4 linked regions of the Homo sapiens genome follow. The protein of the gene in region 2 interacts with the protein of the main gene of each other region in a biochemical or structural test. Each region holds a gene or a part of one and is shown on either strand. Other genes may lie near its edges.

Evidence for each region. The genes of interacting proteins can lie anywhere in the genome.
Region 1: the proteins of CYTIP (region 2) and ASIC3 interact in a test that uses a peptide from one of them, tested with the Homo sapiens proteins (one large-scale study listed by IntAct).
Region 3: the proteins of CYTIP (region 2) and PTPN3 interact in a test that uses a peptide from one of them, tested with the Homo sapiens proteins (one large-scale study listed by IntAct).
Region 4: the proteins of CYTIP (region 2) and APBA1 interact in a test that uses a peptide from one of them, tested with the Homo sapiens proteins (one large-scale study listed by IntAct).

The regions. Positions count from the first base shown.
Region 1 is NC_000007.14:151,046,398-151,051,330, reverse strand, and holds the start of ASIC3 (acid-sensing ion channel 3), read right to left. Parts: upstream 2,801-4,933; 5' UTR 2,446-2,800; coding exon 1,912-2,445; intron 1,226-1,911; coding exon 1,075-1,225; intron 851-1,074; coding exon 723-850; intron 574-722; coding exon 378-573; intron 293-377; coding exon 236-292; intron 160-235; coding exon 12-159; intron 1-11. UniProt on the Homo sapiens protein: Forms pH-gated heterotrimeric sodium channels that act as postsynaptic excitatory receptors in the nervous system. Upon extracellular acidification, these channels generate a biphasic current with a fast inactivating and a slow sustained phase.
Region 2 is NC_000002.12:157,430,038-157,434,957, forward strand, and holds part of CYTIP (cytohesin-interacting protein), read right to left. Parts: intron 4,711-4,920; coding exon 4,661-4,710; intron 4,388-4,660; coding exon 4,333-4,387; intron 926-4,332; coding exon 823-925; intron 616-822; coding exon 522-615; intron 1-521. UniProt on the Homo sapiens protein: By its binding to cytohesin-1 (CYTH1), it modifies activation of ARFs by CYTH1 and its precise function may be to sequester CYTH1 in the cytoplasm.
Region 3 is NC_000009.12:109,488,308-109,492,517, forward strand, and holds part of PTPN3 (tyrosine-protein phosphatase non-receptor type 3), read right to left. Parts: intron 1-4,210.
Region 4 is NC_000009.12:69,448,872-69,453,081, forward strand, and holds part of APBA1 (amyloid-beta A4 precursor protein-binding family A member 1), read right to left. Parts: intron 3,431-4,210; coding exon 3,251-3,430; intron 926-3,250; coding exon 713-925; intron 1-712. UniProt on the Homo sapiens protein: Putative function in synaptic vesicle exocytosis by binding to Munc18-1, an essential component of the synaptic vesicle exocytotic machinery. May modulate processing of the amyloid-beta precursor protein (APP) and hence formation of APP-beta.

The sequences.
Region 1 (4,933 bases), on a different chromosome or scaffold from region 2:
GCGCAGCTCACGCGATGTAGGCCTCGCTGCGGTTGAGCTTCCGGGCCAGGAAGCGCGCGGCGGCGCGGCTCGGGATCCGCACCATGGAGAGCTCCTTGGCGTAGCGCGTGCTGGCGCACGGGTTGGGGCAGGCGCACGAGTCCTTGCGAAGCATGGCATCTGCGGGCCACCGGGCCGCGTCAGACGCCCGCGGGCGGAGCGGGGCGGACGGGAGGTGGGGGAGGCTCGCCCTTACCTATGGCCGGGTGGGCACAGTTCTTGTACTGCTGGGGGCTGCACACTGGCACGTCGCCTGCGGGTACCGGGGAGATGGCTTTAGAAGCAGCCTCAGCTCCCTGGGCCCTGCCCGCCATGGGACGAAAACCCCAGCCCCTCACCTGGCATGTACACCATTCGGCAGCCGCACTTCCGAGCCACGTAGCGGGTTTCGCAGGCCAGGCGACACCCCATAAGGGTATAGGGAGGGCTGGGGCTGGGGCTGGGGGAGCCTAGGGGATCAGAGGGCTCTGGCTCATAGTTGGGGTTCAGAGATGCTGAACTGCAATCGCCCCAGGGCGGTGGCAGGAAGCTCAGCTGTGGGGGGACAGGGTTAAGGAGGCTTCCCGGAGAGCGTGAGAGGCCAGCTGGGGAGAGGCCCCTAGACAGGTCTGAGGAGCTGAGGGTTTAGGGTCTGAGGTGGTGTGGGCTTGAAGTAGTAGGTGTGGAGGCACACGGAAGGGTACCTGCTGCTGCTGGCAAGAAACAAAGGTCTGGTAGCCCGGGGACACCCCCAAGCCCAGCTGATCGATGATGGGCGGCTCCTCCTGGCTGTGGATCTGCACTCGGATCCCCACCTCAAACGGGGTCTCCTCTGTCGGGGAGGGACCTGTGAGGCCTGACCTGTGTGGTCAGGTCTCCTGCCCAACCAGACAAGACCTCTCACTGCAGCCCCTCTCCCCAGGACTGGGATGAGCCAGCCCAGCCCCTTTCACAGGTTCTGGGGGAACACCCTGACACCTCCTCTCCTCCTCTCCTTCCCCTAGCCTTTTGCACTCCATCCGTGCCCTCCCCCAGCCTCATTTGTGTGCTCCCTACCATTGTCCCTCCACACAGGTAGATATTCCTCCTGCTGCACGTCCAGCATGATGTCCAGCCCATTGCCCATGCCACCCCTAGTAGTGGTGAGCAGCTCTGCCCCATCAGCGCCAGAGTTAAATGTGTAGCACTTTCCCATCCGGGTGAAGATCTGGGGCGGGCAGACAGGGTGATGGCCATCTCCCCCAGGCAGGCACATGGTCATGGGACCTCTCCCCACCTCATGGTATGTTTGCGTCTCTTCTTTGAATACTGAAGCCCGCATCTCAATGCCCCCAGCCCCACGCTCCAGTGGGCACATGTTGCAGGACGCTCTTGGGAGCCCATCAACTCAGCTCCTCCACCCCGCCAATCCCCACCAAAGCCCAGGGCACAGCCTACAGGTTTTTCTGTGTTTCTCTGGGAACTGCAGGAAAAGGAAATGGGCCCCTGTGGCTGTCCTCCGGGGCTGGCAGTATGTTGAAAAGGCAGAGGGAAAGCAAGCCCCCCCCACCTCCTGGCAGAGATAGGGGTCTTCTGCCCCAGAATGGTCCCACCATGGAGGACCCCCAGCCCCAGGAGCAGGGCCTCCCTGGGCCAGACCTCAGGCCTAGGGCCAGCCGGGGTCAGTGTGGCCTCACATGCTCCCCTCGGGCTGGGAGACAGAGAAAGCCCCAAGGAGGACAGCTTCCTGGGCTGCACGGAGTGGCACTGGGGGGTGGGGAGTCCATGGCTGGTAGGAAGGAAGAGGTCCCCTGGCTTTGGGGGAGCCTGTGCTGGCTAGGGAATTGTGGGTGCTGGGCAGGGACTGGTCGGCTCTCTGGGTCCCTGGCAGGATAGGTAGGGAGGTCAGCTCACCGTGGTGAAGTTCTCAGGCCCACAAGGTTGGCCACGGAAGCGACAGTCCAGCAGCATGTCATCCAGGGAGTGCCCAGCACGGGCATAGAGTTGCGCCATGTCAAAGGTGGGACTGGGCATGAAGCCGGGCGGTGCAGGGGGCCGGCCCAGGGCGCGCAGGAAGGCGGCGTGCTCTGCGGGATCCAGGCCCAGCAGCGCAGACCCAGCCCAGTGCAGGTCGTTGGGCGTTAGGCGCGAGCGGCGCAGTGGGTTGATGTTGCACAGGGTGACAGCCGGGAAGATGAGCCGGTGGCTTTCTCGCTCATCCAGGGCAGTCTGGTGGTGGAACTCCCTGTAGTAGCGCACCCTCTCAGCCACCTGGTAGAGGAAGGTGGCCACTGACAGGACCACGGCCGCTGCCCACATCCCCCGGCGCAGGCTCAGGCTGCCTGGCCCGAAGACGTGGCCCAGCCCGTGCATCGAGCAGTTGCTGGCGAACACGCGGATGTCCGAGGCTGGCCGCCGGGCCTCCTCTGGGCCTGAGGTGGGCTTCATGGCCAGAACCCAGGAGCGGAACCAGCTACAGAGGCTTGGAAGAAGCGAGAGAGAGTCAGTCAGGGGGCTAAGGAGGCTAAGATAGGATTCAGGAGGCCAGGCAAGGAGAGGAGAAGAGAGGGTGGGAGACAGCCAAGGTTGGAAGGCAGGGAGGCACTAGCCTGGCAGGATTGGAGGAGGTGATCTGGCCGGTCAGGTCCCACTGTTCCTTCCCGAGGAACAGGCGGTGGCTCCACTGGGCTAGGCACTGGGCTGGGGACTCCGCAGCAGACCAGGTGGGACGTAGCTGACCGTGGCAGGCAGGGGCTGCGGAGCGGTGCTGAGCCGGCGGTGCTGAGCCGGCGCTGCTGCAGAGGATTGGGTTTCAGCAGTAGGGGGGAAAGGGGGCCGACAGAGCAGTCTGGGGGGTAGGAGAGGTCCCTAGGGCCCCAGGCTGAGCCATTAGTGCAGCATGGAGGGGGGCATGGCTGTCCAAGACGAGAGGCGCCAGGAGGAAACCGCAGTAATCCTAGGGAGAGCTTGAGAAAAGCCCAGAGGTAGATTGGGCCTGGAGATGCCTTGGGGCCCCCTAGGCTCCCAGTTGCAACCCCTGTACACTGGCCGCGAGGGTCAGTCGCTGACCCCTGGCCTAGCTCCTCTCTCCTTTTGCCTCTGCGGCCTTCCCTCTAGCTTCACCCAGGATCTGTTCCTTCACGAATACCAGAGCTGGCTCTTGGCCAAGCTGGGAAATGGTTGGAAGGCTGGCATCAGCAGATCTCTTCTTTCTGTGCCCCTAGCATCTCAGCCTACACTGGATGGCCAGGGCACTCTTCATGTCCCACTTCCAGGGCCCGTCTGTTTCCTAAGTGTCCCTCTCTCCCTAGGGAGTCAAAGCCTACCTCCCCACACTCAGGCCTCTGAGGATGTTGGCCTCTACAATGGTTATGGGCTCACCTGCCACCCCAGGTAGAACATGGGTGCCCCACCTGCCACCCTCCCGGGTACCACGGGTACCCCACCTGCCATCTCAGGCACAACATGGGTATTCTGTGATTTCCCATCTTACGCTGCTATATCCAGGACCTGGAAAACCTACATTTTTCCAAAGGGCTGCATACCACCCATTATGTGCACATACCATAGTTTATTTAATGACTCCCCCACTGATGGGCACTGGGGGTGTCCAGTCTTTCCATTACAAACAATGTTGCCGTATCATCACACAGATGTGAACTCCCAGGACTTTGGTGGGCTTTTTTTGACCATGAGTGGTAGAAACATGGTTCCACCAGCCAAACGTGTGCACACACCATGCTGCAACTGCTGGGCCACCTGTCTGTCCTCCCAACAGGACACAAGCTTCATGGGGGCAGGGACTGTCCTCATTCCCCATCGTGGGCTCAATGGCACATGACAGGTGCTTGATTAATAAACACTTTGGAAGGACTGAGTACCATGGTTACAGCACAGGCGTACCAGCTCCCCAGAGCCACAGTGCCATGCTTTGCAAGTATTTACTGTAGATGATCCCACTCACACTCTCAAAACAGGCATTCAGCATCAAGCACAGCTAGGCTCCCACTCTCCACTGTGGAGCGAAGGCCGAGGCGAGGTTAGGAAGACGGCGCGGCTCCTGCGGTCTAGCTCTTCCAGCTGGACTAGCCAAGGGGTTTCACTGCTTCTCTAGGGGGCGGGTGAAGGGCTGGATTTAAAGAAGCCGCCCAGAAGATATAAATCTGGTGTCAGAGGCATTTTGGGCAGCCTGAGGCTGATGACTGAGTGGGTGAAGCAGGAACCACCTTGGCTGGCTGCCTGGTGAGGGAGGGGTCAGGCCAACAAGCAGGGCCCCAGCAGGGCTTGTGGACTTGCCAGCTGAGGCCCTACTCTGGGCTGCCCTAAGGAGGGGTTTAGCTGTGAACCAGCCCCAGGCTCTGCTCCTGGACCTCCACTGCTTAAAGACACAGCCTCTGATCTGTCAGGAAGTGGGATATCAAATCAGGGTGGATGTGGGCCTGGGGTTTTTGGATGGCTTGTCCCCAAAGCACCATCTAGTTCTAAACCACACCCACAAGAGCCCGTGGGTCCCACTCTGGCTCCTGCACGCAAACTTGAGCCACTGCTGCCTCTTCCAGGCTGGCCTCCCAGCAGCACCAGCTGCTCCATCAATGCACTGTATCACACCCCTGAAAGAGGGTACCACCCTTCTTTACACAGGGTAAATCCAGAATGCTTGCCTGGCTGTGAAGGTGCATTGCAGGTACCACCTCTTCTCCTGCCCAGGGGAACAGGGCACCGTGTAGTCCCACAGCCTGGATGTGGCTGGATAGGGGAAGGATCCCAGTAGGAAGTGACAGCGGCACCAACATGGGGAGGGCTGATGCATCTGCAGCAGTGCAGGGACACGAGGTCCTGCTGGGGCACCAGTTCAGCCAAGGACCTACTTGTGTGCCTTTCCAGGCCCCTCAGAAGCCAGCTGGAGCCTAGCCCCCTCATCCACAGTCTCAGGGCC
Region 2 (4,920 bases):
AAAAAGAAGTTTGGAACATTTGGAACATGTGGTGTGAGTATGTGTGTTTCAGGGTGGGGAGGGTTGAACAGACTATTCTTCCTTCCAAATGGAACACTAGAAGAGAAAAACAGGTGGCTTGTCACATAAGAGGAAAAACTCAGCCCTTCTGACCTTTGATTTGTTTTAGCTACAGGATTATATCAACCATGAAAATTGGATCAGTTCTTCCCAGTTTAAAGAGAATGTGTGCCAGTTTAATTGAATTTGACATTAAAAAAATACATTTGTAAAGGCCATCCTTCCCACACAGACGTTTGGGCTATTGATGTCCTCTGACTTCAGATGTTGACAGTATGTTCAAGTGTGAGGAATCTTGAGAAACAAAAGGAACTGATAATGTTTGTACCCCACTCTAAAGCTCCGGTGCACTGCCTCACTCCGTCTTGTAATGCTGAACAAAAGGCCTATTTATTCACTCATCAGGCTTTATGAGAAAACATAACATTTTGAAGCCCCACGGGAACTAGACAGATAGTTACGTTAGCAGGTTTCCGGACGATCTGATCAGGTCAACGACTTGTTTGTAGGTAAAACCTTCTGTGCTCACACCATTGATATTTGCAAGGACATCACCTGGGAGATGCCAAGAAAAATGAGTGTTATGTTGGTTAGTTAAATAATCCCTCCTGACATGCAAATGAAACAAGCAGCTCCAAGTCTTAAAAACATAAAGGAGCCAAGAAAACTCAAAGCAACAAATACATCCTGACCTTCACTCTCAAAACATTTTATTTTCTTTCCATTTAAATGATTCCTAACATGAGCAAAAATTTAAGTTACCAGCTTGCAGGCCAGCACAGTGAGCTGGGCTGTCCTCCTGTATTTTGCATATCAAAGTGAACATTTCCGAGGAGCAGGCATTCTGATTCTGGGGCCTGTAAGACTGTAAAAATTAAGATGATATATAGTTACTATTTAACAACCTCAACATCTATTTGCCAAAATTTAAAATGATGTCAATTATCATTAAGCAGTATAATAGGTAAGTTCAAAGGACAAAGGATTTCCACTATAAACTAAATCAAGGTATCAATTTTGCAATTCTACCAGACAATCTGTAGCCAACTCCATTCATAAAGACATCTGTCATGAGAAAGAAAGTGAAATGAGAGTGGCTCAAGATTTTATATTTTCAAGCCCAAGATATCACCTGATGCTATCACGATTTATTTTTAAAAATTGAGTTTCTCATTTCCCAATGGGATAAAACAACGATGGCCAAGTGCAATGAGAAAAATCCCTAAGTGGTTCTCCCAAGCTAAAACACTCATTATAGGAGTATGAAATTGTACACATGCAGCAAGGAGACATGCCAACAATGATTATTTTAAATCAGAGTTCTGCACATAATGACAATCTGCCCTGCATTTATTCAAAAGTACTATAATTGACTCAATTACCTTCATTTCTGAGCACCCTCTGGTATGCCTGTCCTGAATCCTCACCGGTTCATTAGTCACCCAACTAAATTAGAAAAAGTTAAGCTTCAACTCTTGCCTCAATTAGGCACAAGTAGTTTGGTGGTGGTGGGTTTTTTTATTTTTAATTATACCAAAACACTGAATAAATGTTTGCTAGATATAGTGTCCCAATGACCTATAACAAATATAATTTTCTTTTTTTCACACATTTAAATTATGAAGTCTAGTTCCACTTAGAAGCAAAATCAGTGTTCTGAGTAGAGTACGTCTTTTAAACATCTGATTCCTAAAATTAAGCTACATTAAAGTAGTACTTCCTTGTGAAAAAATTGATGTCTGATGTTCATTCTTTCTTATTCAATAATCCCTGAGGCATCACAAGTCAGCCACATGCAAGCAACTTCTAGAAACTTGGGTCTGTTCACCTCTAAAGGACTTCTATCTAATCTATAAGGCACTTAGAATCCCCATATCTTAAAGGTAGAAGGGACTTTAAAAGATCATGCACTATGTTCCCATCTATGTCAGAAACTTCATTGACAGCTTTCCTGCCAGGGGTCTTCTCAGTATAGCCTAGACCCTTCTGGAGATGAAAGACTGATCTAGTTCATGTGGTACATGAATAAAATATACAACTGACACTCCTTTGGGAAACCACTGTTCTAACAATTCTCATTAGCAGTGAGACTCTACCCTCCATTCCCAGAGATCAAAGTAAGTACAGTGCAGTAGAAACATGTTGATTTATGTAGCTGGCACCTCCATATATGTTCACATTGGGTGTAAAATATGGTAGTTAGAAATAGAAAAAAACAGAAACCCCAAAGCTACAGAAAGTATTAATTGGATGCTTTTTTCTCTTACCCAGTCTTCTAGCTCCCATTAAGGGATCAGTGACACAATGATCACCTGCATTTCTTAGAGACACAAAGATCTCATTGTCCTTTCTCATGCCCAGTGACATTCATTCTAACACCTGTCATTTGTGGATCTTCTATTGGTAAGGCACATCACTAGGTACATTGCATGTATTATTTCATTTAAAACTCCTAAGGACCCCATAAGGCATTAGGAGGATATGAATTCAGGTGTGCATGAGTCCAAAGTCTGCATTCCTATTGGGCTGCACGATTCTGATAAGCAGCATAAAACTAGCTCCCATGGAGAACCATGGATCTGGTCTCTTCCAAAGTGTCATTCCTCTAGTAGGCCACATCCCAAACATGTACTCACACTGCATGCACAATATGGGTACATGAGGTTCTATCTGATTTTCAAAAAGTTCCCAGAAGCATGTCTCCTATTTGTTAACTGCTGCAAATCTGATGAGTACTAGGGAATAGATTATGGTGTGTATTTGACAATGGAGAGCATATACCAGAGGGAATTTACAGGAGTGTGGGTTCCTGCATCACTGAGATAACACCTACATGCTGCCATTTAGAGGTGCCATTAGTTCATGTTGATCTACAAAAGTTCAGTGGTGTTGTGGCCTGACATAGTTTTGACTCTTGCTCCACGGAGAATAAGTGTTTATGGTATGGGAGAAAAACTTAAGAAAGTAGTGACATTATTATGGCAGTATAAGAAAAATAAAGAAAGGTGAGTAGTCGTTTATCCAGTTTTCAGTAGCCACTGCTGCACATCCTTGAGGATAATTTTCCTTTAAAAAGAAGCAGTGACAAAAAGCAGTGTCTCTACAACAGAATAGGGAGTAGTTCATATGACCGGGGAGTAAGAGGGAGCACTATGCTTCTAAAACCTATAGATTTCACCAGTTACTGTGGTGAATTACAGATTCCTCCAAATTTAAAAGTACAGGAGTTAGGAAAGTAGAAGTGATCCTCTTTTCAAAGTGCCTTCTCTGTCTTCATTGCAGCTAAAGTTCCATTTTGTTTCTTTACTCATAAAACATGTTTTTCTTAGCAGTTTCCTGTTCCTAATCTTAAAATAAACACTGACTTTCCAATTGTGGGGCTGATATCACACCAGAGTTTTCTGAAAGCAGCAGTAAAGCTAAGATCTAAAATCTGATATAGAGTGTAAGAATATGATTATGCAAAACACATCCAAAAGACATGCAAACGTACTATGGAAAAAAAAAACAGAAATGCTTAAGCTACTACTGTTGCACTTAATTGGGTTAGACTTCATTTGACCTACCTCACCCATTTTACAAATGTGCTCATGAAAAAGCAGACAGCTAATAAGCAATGAAATTCTTAGGCAATTATGCTGAAACTTATAAAGACTTAAAAATTTCCTACAGCATGAGGCAATCTGCAAGTAGAGCCAAATGTTCTCAAGTGTTTCAAATAACAATTATAAAGCATTGTCATTAGGAAAAAAAGCTACAAATTGCTCATTATGTACAATATGAACTCTAGTTGCAAAACATACCAGGAGCTATCCATGAATATATGCATTCTATATACACAGATGTATAGTCTTTCGAGTGTCTCTTGAATGCCAAAGTAAATACTTAAAATCTGATACACAGTATAACAATATGATTATACAAAACACATGCAAATATATCAAGTACACATCTGTAAAATGTATTTCACTCTCTTATCTAAGACCTAGCTGATACCAACCTAGCTGATCAGTCTGGGACTTAAGGGAAGACTGAAGCAACTAAGCACAAACTGCTGAGCATATCGCAGAGGTTTTGTTATCATCTTCAATGTTTTCTTTCCTTAATAGTACTCAACACACTGAAAAACTACCCCCAAACAGCCACACACTGAATAAAAGTCATAGGCTCCATCATTCTCTAATCCTAACTTCATTTTTTCTTTGCACATAACATGACACTACCGGTGCCACTTTCTTCCTTGGAAGTCTAGAAAATGTGAAAATTGCCCACCTGAATTTCAAATCCAAATGTTTCATTATCCTGCTTCTCCACAGTAACAAGCTTTCTGTAATAAAAATGTTTAAAAAAGAAACTGCATGAAAATTAAAGTATCACATTTGGCACAGATCTATCATTAAAAATAACTGTCACAATTAAAAATAACTGACATTTATGTAAATTGTAGTATGTAAGATTCTGTGTGTGTGTCTGTGTGTGTGCGTCTGTGTGTGTGCGTAGAGAGAGAGAGAGAGAGAGAGGAAGAGAGAGGAAAAAACAGTCTGGAGAGCTATGTTCCTAAATATTTTGGGAGAGACAAAAAATAATTCAATCTCTTTACCTTTGAGACCAGGAAAAGTCACTTAAAGAACTTGATCTGGTCAAAGCAAGCTGAAAAACACAAAAGACATATAGTTATCCCAGGGTCTTCAAGATACACTGTAAAATGTTCTAAATCTCTCTCTCTCTCTCTCTCTCTCTCTCTCTCTCTCTCACACACACACACACACACACACACACACACACACACACACACACACACAACCTGTTCTTTACCACCTTCTTTGGCCCAGCTCCTGGGAAATTGTTGCATAAAGGCAG
Region 3 (4,210 bases), on a different chromosome or scaffold from region 2:
CAGTCTGGTCTCGAACTCCTGACCTCAGGTGATCCACCCGCCTCTGCCTCCCAAAGTGCTAGGATTACAGGCATGAGCCACCGCACCAGGCTGAAAGTACATTTTTAAGCAGTAAAATCTAATAACACAGTTAACCAGAAAATCTTTCCAACATTCAGCAGTACTAGTATCTTGCATTCTAGGAACCGGAACATTCCTTTACTAACTGGCTTTTCCATTAAAGCTGCTGATGCCTAGAGTAATAAAAACACGACTGCACTGGACAGTGTTCTTAAAGTTCACATGACTGGGATGCTTCCCAGAAAATAGCTCCATTATCTTCACATTTTCATCCTATAATAATTTGTAATCCAGGAAGGCAAGGTTTGTATTTTCTTCTAGGCAGAAAATAAGTTAAAGAACCAGACTGTATGGATCCCAGAGCCTGACCCCTTGACCGAGTGTCTGGTCACTTGATATTACAAATCTAGACTTCCTGATAAATGGCCCTGTAGTGACCTTGTTACTGGGATCCCTAGATGCTGGTTTCCTGCCTGGTTTCTCTGCATCCAAGTCCCTGTCTGCATCTACTGTCCATCCAATGCCCATCCTCTTCTGCCTGGGTCCCCAATGCCACCTGCTTCCCTGCCTTTGCCAAAGGTCAGTGACTTAGTCATCATCTCAGAACTAGGGCTGGAACAGGGATGTGGGCGTTGGTGCAGGAAGAAGAGGTGGAAGTGTGAGCACTAGAGGAAAGAAGATAAGGTCTAGGGTGACTCCCGCCTCCTGCCCTTCTTTGCTTACACACCCTGGCTCTTAAATTCTATTAGAAATTGGTCAGTGGGAAGCACAGCTGGCTTGTTCATCTCCCTGTCCATCTATCATAAACTCTGTCCCTGCTCCTCCATCCAGCCAGGGTATGTGAGTGACGTTCCAGACTCTGCCAGTCCTTGTGGCAGACAGGTACCATAGTGAGGTGAGAGCTGACAAAAGGCCGGTGTGGCAGGCACAAAGCTGGGAGTGGCATCCTACTGGAGGTGGGACCACAGAGGTGTGGGGACCAAAGCCACAAACATCAGGCCTGCAGGCCATGCAGAGGTTAGTTTTGTCTTTATCCAGGTAGAAGATTCCTAGTGCTAGAGGGTTTTCCATGCTGGCTCACCCTGCACTGATCTCAACCTCGAAGTCACTCTTAAATCCGGACGTGACCACACGTCCGGATTTACCTAGGGCAGTCCCGGCTTAGACCCGTCAGTCATGTGCAATTATTAATAGGACCCCTTTTTATTCTCAAATTGTTCTGGTTGGGATGATAAATTCTAGTTGCACTGTTCTTGGGGGCCTAGGCCTGTGAAGTCAGTGCTGCAGTTAGAGAAGTCTACCCATGATTAGCAGGGACGCCCAGCCTGATGAGTCTCACCCCTCATCAAACATTCCATTTGCCTCTCCAGTATCCCTGCCAAACCATCATCTGGCTTCTGCTTGTATATCTGCAAGGACAGCAGGCTCACTATCTTCTCAGGAAGCCTCTCTTTTTTGGGGAAAGCTTTGTTATAAAAATAGCAGGATTCAAACCTGTATACAGTATGACTGCAACTAAATAACAACATCCAGGCCGGGTGGGGTGGCTCATGCCTATAATCCCAGCACTTTGGGAGGCCGAGGTAGGTGGATCACTTGAGGTCAGGAGTTCTAGACCAGCCTGGCCAACATGGCAAAACCTCATCTCTATTAAAAATACAAAAAATTAGCTGGGCGTGGTCGTGGACACCTGTAATCTCAGTTACTTGGGAGGTTGAGGCAGGAGAATCACTTGAACCCAGGAGGCAGAGGTTGCAGTGAGCCGAGATCGCGCCACTGCACTCTAGCCTGGGTGACAGAGCAAGACTCCATCTCAAAAAAAACAAAACAAAAACAAAACAAAAAAAACCCCACATCACTCAGCAGGGAAAGGCGTGGGGCTGGAAGAAAGCAGAAAACCTGCTGACTTTTCCCCTTGCACCTCCTTCCATCTCTCCCTCTCCTCATTCAACAAATATTTACTGAGTGCATTTGATGGTCCAGGGACTGTGCTTGGCACTGGGGACAAAATGGTGAGTTAAAACAGACTCAATGTGAGGGGCATTCTACAAAATAATTGGCTTGTACTTTCCAAAAACGTCAAGGTCTGGCTGGGCATGGTGGCTCACGCCTGTAATCCCAGCACTTTGGGAGGCCGAGGTGGGCGGATCACCTGAGGTCGGGAGTTGGAGACCAGCCTGACCAACACGGAGAAATCCCGTCTCTACTAAAAATACAAAAAATTAGCCGGGCGTGGTGGCACATGCCTGTAATCCCAGCTACTCAGGAGGCTGAGGCAGGAGAATTGCTTGAACCCAGGAGTCGGATGCTGCAGTGAGCTGAGACTGAGCCACTGCACTCCAGCCTGGGCGACAGAGCGAGACTCCATCTTGGAACAACAACAACAAAAAAAGTCAAGGTCCTGAAGGACCAAGAACAATTGGGGAACTGTCTTAGTTTAAAGGAAACTAACGAGACATGACAACCGTACGCAACCCATTTATAAGAGTTTTTTTTTTTTTGCTATAAAAAAGGACATCACTAAGACAACTGGCAAAACCTAACATCTAGGCCGGGCGCAGTGGCTCGGGCCTGTATCCCAGTACTTTGGGAGGCTGAGACAGGCAGATCACTTGAGGTCAGGAGTTCGAGACCAGCATCCAACATGGTGAAACCCTGTCACCACAAAAAATACAAACATTAGCCGGGCATGGTGGCACACGCCTGGAATCCCAGCTACTTGGGAGGCTGAGACAGGATAATTGCTTGAATCCAGGAGGCGGAGGTTGCAGTGAACTGAGATCACACCACTGCACTCCAGCCTGGGTGGCAGAGTGAGGGACACTCTCTCTCAAAAAAAAAAAAAAAAGTATATAAAACTTGAGGTTTATAGATTAAACAATGTTGTATCACTATTAATTTATTGATTCTAAAATTTGTATTGTAGTTACGGAATATCATCGCTTTTAGGAAATATATGTAGGGGGAAAGGAGGCATTGATAAATAATCCTCAAATGGTTCAGGATAGATATATATGTACACAGGGATAAAATAAAAAGAATAAAATGGTAATGTTTGGGGAATCTGGGTGAAGAATTTATGGGACTTCTTTGATTTATTCTTACAACCTTCCTATGGGTCTGAATTGTATCAAAATAAAACATTAAAAGAAAAAAAAATAAAACTTAGAAAAAGTTTTTTTAAAAAAGAGACCCTGCCTTCACACAGCTTACAGTGTAGCCGGGAGACAGGTACTAATACAAATAATTACATTAATTAACTGCAAAATTGCCACTAGGAAAAGTGCTATAATGGAGAGAGATCTGGTGGCATGAACATTTATAGCAACAATTTAACTCAAGTCAGGAAGGTGAGCAAAGGCTCTGCAATCATGGAGCTGAGACCCACAGGATGAAGTAATCAGTGGGGAGGGGGAGAAGGTCCCAGGCTCTTGCAGTCCCTGCAGCAGGAAGGAGCACGGTGAGGTGAGGGCTCAAAGAGCATGAACATAGGGCCTGCAGGAGATGCTGAGAGATCAGCTTTGTCTTCATTTTGAGAAAAATAGGAGTGTATGGAAGACTCCCCCGTCTGTGGAGTAGAGAATCCACTGGAAGCAGGAGAGGGCATGTGCAGATCATGGCAGTGCTGACAGTGGACCAGCTGCTTTCAGAGAAGCATCATGCATAATTTTTCTTGTGTTCCCTGACACTTTATTTTCTACAAGAACCATGAATGCATTTGATAACCAGAGCAGGGGAGGGGACTCGGGGGAGCCAGTGGGGAAGACTGAGCTCAGAGGCCAACCTCCCCTCCCCAGGCCCAATGGTGGCTGGCGGTCAAAAAACAGCTGATGGAGCTGGTTGCTGCCTCCCTCACCGAGAACCTCTGGGCTAGCCCTTGAGCTGATGTGGCTGAGGGAGGTGACATGCATGGGCCAGGTCTCCAACCCCACTCCTACGCCAGGGGACCCTCATCAGCACAGCATTCAGGCAGCCATGGCCCCTGCACAGTCCTGGATGCTCCCTCTTGGAATATCCCTTCAGTCCTGAGAACCGGGACCTGTGGTCCTGGCTGAGGAGGGACCTTCACTCACCCACAGCGACTCTCAGCACTGAACACAGATCAAAGCACTTGTCTGGAGGGTCAGGGGTCTGACCACAAAGTGAGGGA
Region 4 (4,210 bases), on a different chromosome or scaffold from region 2:
GTCCCAATGTGCTCAAAAAACTCCACATGAATGCTTCATGTCTAAAGAAAATCTCATTTCTTCTCAAGTATTCACATTTAATTTTCCTTTAAGTAGCTCTTCTTAGCTTTATAAGCATCAGTTCAGGTTGAGCAGGAAGTATGCTCAGGTATGAAAAAGCTTCCATGGACTGGAAGAGAGTTTCCTCCTCCTTCTGGCAATGAGCACATGTGAGTTGCTTTACCCGGGGTCTGAGGGAGGACAAACTCACCTGCATCATAGTCAGGGCCACTGGGAAGGAAAAAGCACTCTCAGATTTGAAGCATTTCTGACATTTTTGACAGGGATGGTAAATCATGCCAAGTGTATCTGGCTGACTATAAGTGACTGTCTGGATTCCCAAGCTGAGGCCATTTCTGTTGAGGCTGAGTCTGGGCTTAGTGGGAGAATGCTGTGATTGACTAGTGATGCTGTGATGGACATGCTGCTATCAGAAAGTAGTGTCATGTGAACCAAATACACTTCCCCTAATCTAAATTGATTTCAGGGAAGAATCTGTAAACAGTAACTTGATGGTAAGCTTCCTGAGTGCAAGTCCACGCCTTTTGTGTTTGTGTCTTCCTTGGTGCCTGACACTTTGAATATGTTCATATACATTAATGACTGGATGGGGGTCACACTTCACATCACTTGAGGTTTACCACATCAACTGATTTTTCCCATATTCAGGTACCTTAATAATGCTCTGGCAGGTGGACAGAGGCAGGCCCACCAGGCTGGTGCCATTAATGGACATGATCTGGTCACCGATATTCAGCTTCCCAGATTTCTCCGCAGGGCCACCATGCATCATGTTGGCAATGATCACGGTGGGGAGGATGGATCCCCAGCCAGACTCCACAATCACCACACCTAGGATTTCTCCTTTCTGCTTCTCTATGAAAACCTGGAAGGAGAAAAACATTTAGAAAACCTCCATCAGTGACCATCTGGGGTAGGTAGAAATGAAAGCCTCTCCCCCATTCCTGTCTTGCCTAAAGAAAGACACTTCCCTGGGGACACCAACCCAGATGAGTTCCTGTCTTCTCAGCATTCCGCATATTTGGAGTTTTTAAGAAATGAATTCACACAGGTCTACACTCTTTTGTAATTCACTCGTTTCACATAAGCAAACTTGCCTCAGCACACAACCATGAGGACCACCAGTTTTTTTTTTTTTTTTTTTTTTTTTTAATTTCTTCAGTCCTGTCCTCAGTGGCAGGGGATGAGGCTCTGTGGGTGGGTGGTGTGTTATGGTTTCTAGAAATAGCTTTTCAAATTCCATGCGCAGGTTCCCCCTCCCACAGTGCTTCCCCAATTCGCTCCGACATTTAATTTTCTTGAGTTAAAAATAAATAAACACACAGAAACACTTCTCTGCAAGGAAAAAGTTGAGAAAAAAGAAAAAGTGATGCTGAAGTTATCACAACCAAAAGGCTGGGTGTGCACACAGGAAGTGCATATCCTGGATACACAGACTTTTCACAACCTTCACTGGCAGGGCAGAGAAGACAGGGGTTGATGTTGGATACTTGCACTCTGGGGAGGCCTGCAGATATGCCACTAAAAGGTACCACACCTCTTGGAAGCACCCAACAGAGTGTGTATGTGTATTTTTGGGGGGCTTGACAAAGTCCCCTTCACAGGTTGGTGTCTGCTTCCCCCAGCTGCTGAAGCTTACAGTCAGCCCCTTCCCTGGAGAACTGTCCTTAGCTGAAAGGGAGACACATTCTGTTAAGGTTGAATTGTGTCCCCCCAAAATTTGTATGTTGAATTACCAACCCCCAGTGCCTTTGACTTAGATTGTGACTTTATTTGGAGATAAGGTCTTAGCAGAGGTAACCAATTTTAAATGAGGTGATTAATATGGACTCTAATCCAATATTACTCATGTCCTTATTTAAGAAGAGGAATGGTTGTCTGTCATGGGTATCAAAAAAAAAAAGAGGAAATTTGGACATAGGGACATGCATGGAGAAAGGCTGATGTGAAGACACAGCATGAAGACAGCCATCTACAAGCCAGAGAAAGGCTTGGAACAGATTCTTCTCTCACGGCTCTCAGAAGGAACCAATGCTAACAACACCTTGCTTTTGGACTTCTGGCCACAAGGTCTGTGAGACAATAGGTTTGTGTTGTTGAAGTCACCCAGTCCATGGTACTTTGTGACAACAGCCCTAGTAAATTCATATACCCCCTGTCCAGCCTTGGCCAATAACCGGCATGGGGTACAAAGGCTTGCCAGCTCCCTCGCTCCAAGGTGAGACAAATCTGTCCTGCAATATGTGCCATGGAGCTTCCCTCTGGACAGAAGGAAGCTCATGTCCAAGGGACCACACCCTTACTTGGTGTCCCACCACCAAGCTTCCCACATCCCTTCTGTTCTGAGGCACTCTCCCAACAAACCTCTGTGACAAGAATCCCTGCCTCAGGCTCTGCTTCTGGGGAATCTGACCTAAGACACCTGACAGACCCCAGTGGATCAAATGATCACTTTCTCATTAAAAGTTCTTTTTACCTATGGGATCAAGTCCAAACCCCTCAGCTGGACTTGCAGGCCCTCCAGTTCTGACCCAGATCTCAGGCCCATCTATCTCCTTTCCTGTGCCTACCTCCTGCTCTAGCCAAACCGTATTTCCTCATTCCCTAGACAAATGTGGAGCTTTCTGATCTCCAGGCTTCCAACCATTCCATAGACCCCACCCTCGGCTTGCCCCTACAATCCCCAGATCGCCAGACCAGCTTGGATAGCCTCATCTTCCTACAGGCATTCCTGAATAGCTCAGTTTGAAGCCACAGGCCATCCCCAGAGAAGCACAGCACCTCTTGTCTGAAACTTGAGATCTTCTCTGTTTGTCCAAGTGTAGTTGGTTTTGATTAGTGCCTGTACCTGGCACCATCATTTAACTTTTTCAGTGCCCTTACCTAGATTGCAGTGTTTGTACAAGCAGAGTTCAGGTCCTATCTGCCTCTGGGACCCACCCAAAACTTAGCTCAGGATGACCAGGAGCAGAGGATGTGCTGCCTCTCTGTTTACACCTGTCCACAATAGCATTTCATGACAGGGCCCCACAGCAGGGAGCGAGAGATGGGGGTGAACGACTTCATGATGTCCTGCCAATACGGCACTCCTCACCATTGATCTCCCTTCACTTCCGCGGCAGGGTGCCCCACTTTCCAAGCCCCTGCCCAGCTGACCCAGCCTGGAGAACAGCTTCAGGTAAGTACCCACATCTTTACAGTTTTCCGACTTGGAGAAGTGGATCAGGTCATCGTTGTACATGTCCTGGGTATTGAGCAGGTCACTATACTCCTTCTGGCTGAGATCTTCGGGGTTAATCCCATTGGCCCTGAGGAATTCCTGGTATGCCACGCTAAATGCCTGTCCGATGGACTGTGCAATCAGCTGAGCCTGGAACAGCAGCCAGAGAGGAAAGATGGTCAGCAGGGCAGTGCACCTGGTGAGCGGCCTGGCGCACTTCCCACCTGAACAATGGCCCTCCTGGAGTCTGAGGAAACCCTAGACATCACGCCTGCTGGGCCAGTGGTTCTACGTGGGGCTACCAGTGCCCACCAGGGGCAATTTTCAGAAAGACTGGGGATGTTTTTGATTATGACAATGATCATAAGGGAGCTACCGGCATTCAGCAGACAGGAGTCAGAGATGCTGAATATCCTGCCATGCAAAAAACAGCTCGATACAGTGATGAGTCATTCTATACCCTGCACCATCTTCACAGATCCCTCTGGACATTCATGTGCATGCAATACTTGTTTACAGTTACCTGAGTCCAGGATTCAACTCCAATTTATACATAAACACAAAGACTTTGTATGGCTCTAATACACATCGAACATTTCAAGAATAATACCGTCTGAATTGAGAGATGATGTTATTTTGCTTCATTCAGTACTTCACCAGGAGGAAACTTCATGACTTTGGAAAATCAACATCAGCGCTGCTGTGATATCTGTGTTGCCGATAAATCACATCCCTATCAACCTGCACGTGTGCTGTCATGCATGGTGATTATGCATGTGCTTGTAGATACATACATATTATTTGGCCCTCAATTTGAAATGTCAACTGGAAAGTTTATGATATCCCACTGCACACTGCGTTCTCCTACATCCAAGCTTAATCAAGTAGGCATAAGCATCTCACTATCTCATTATGCCTTTCAGAATGGTT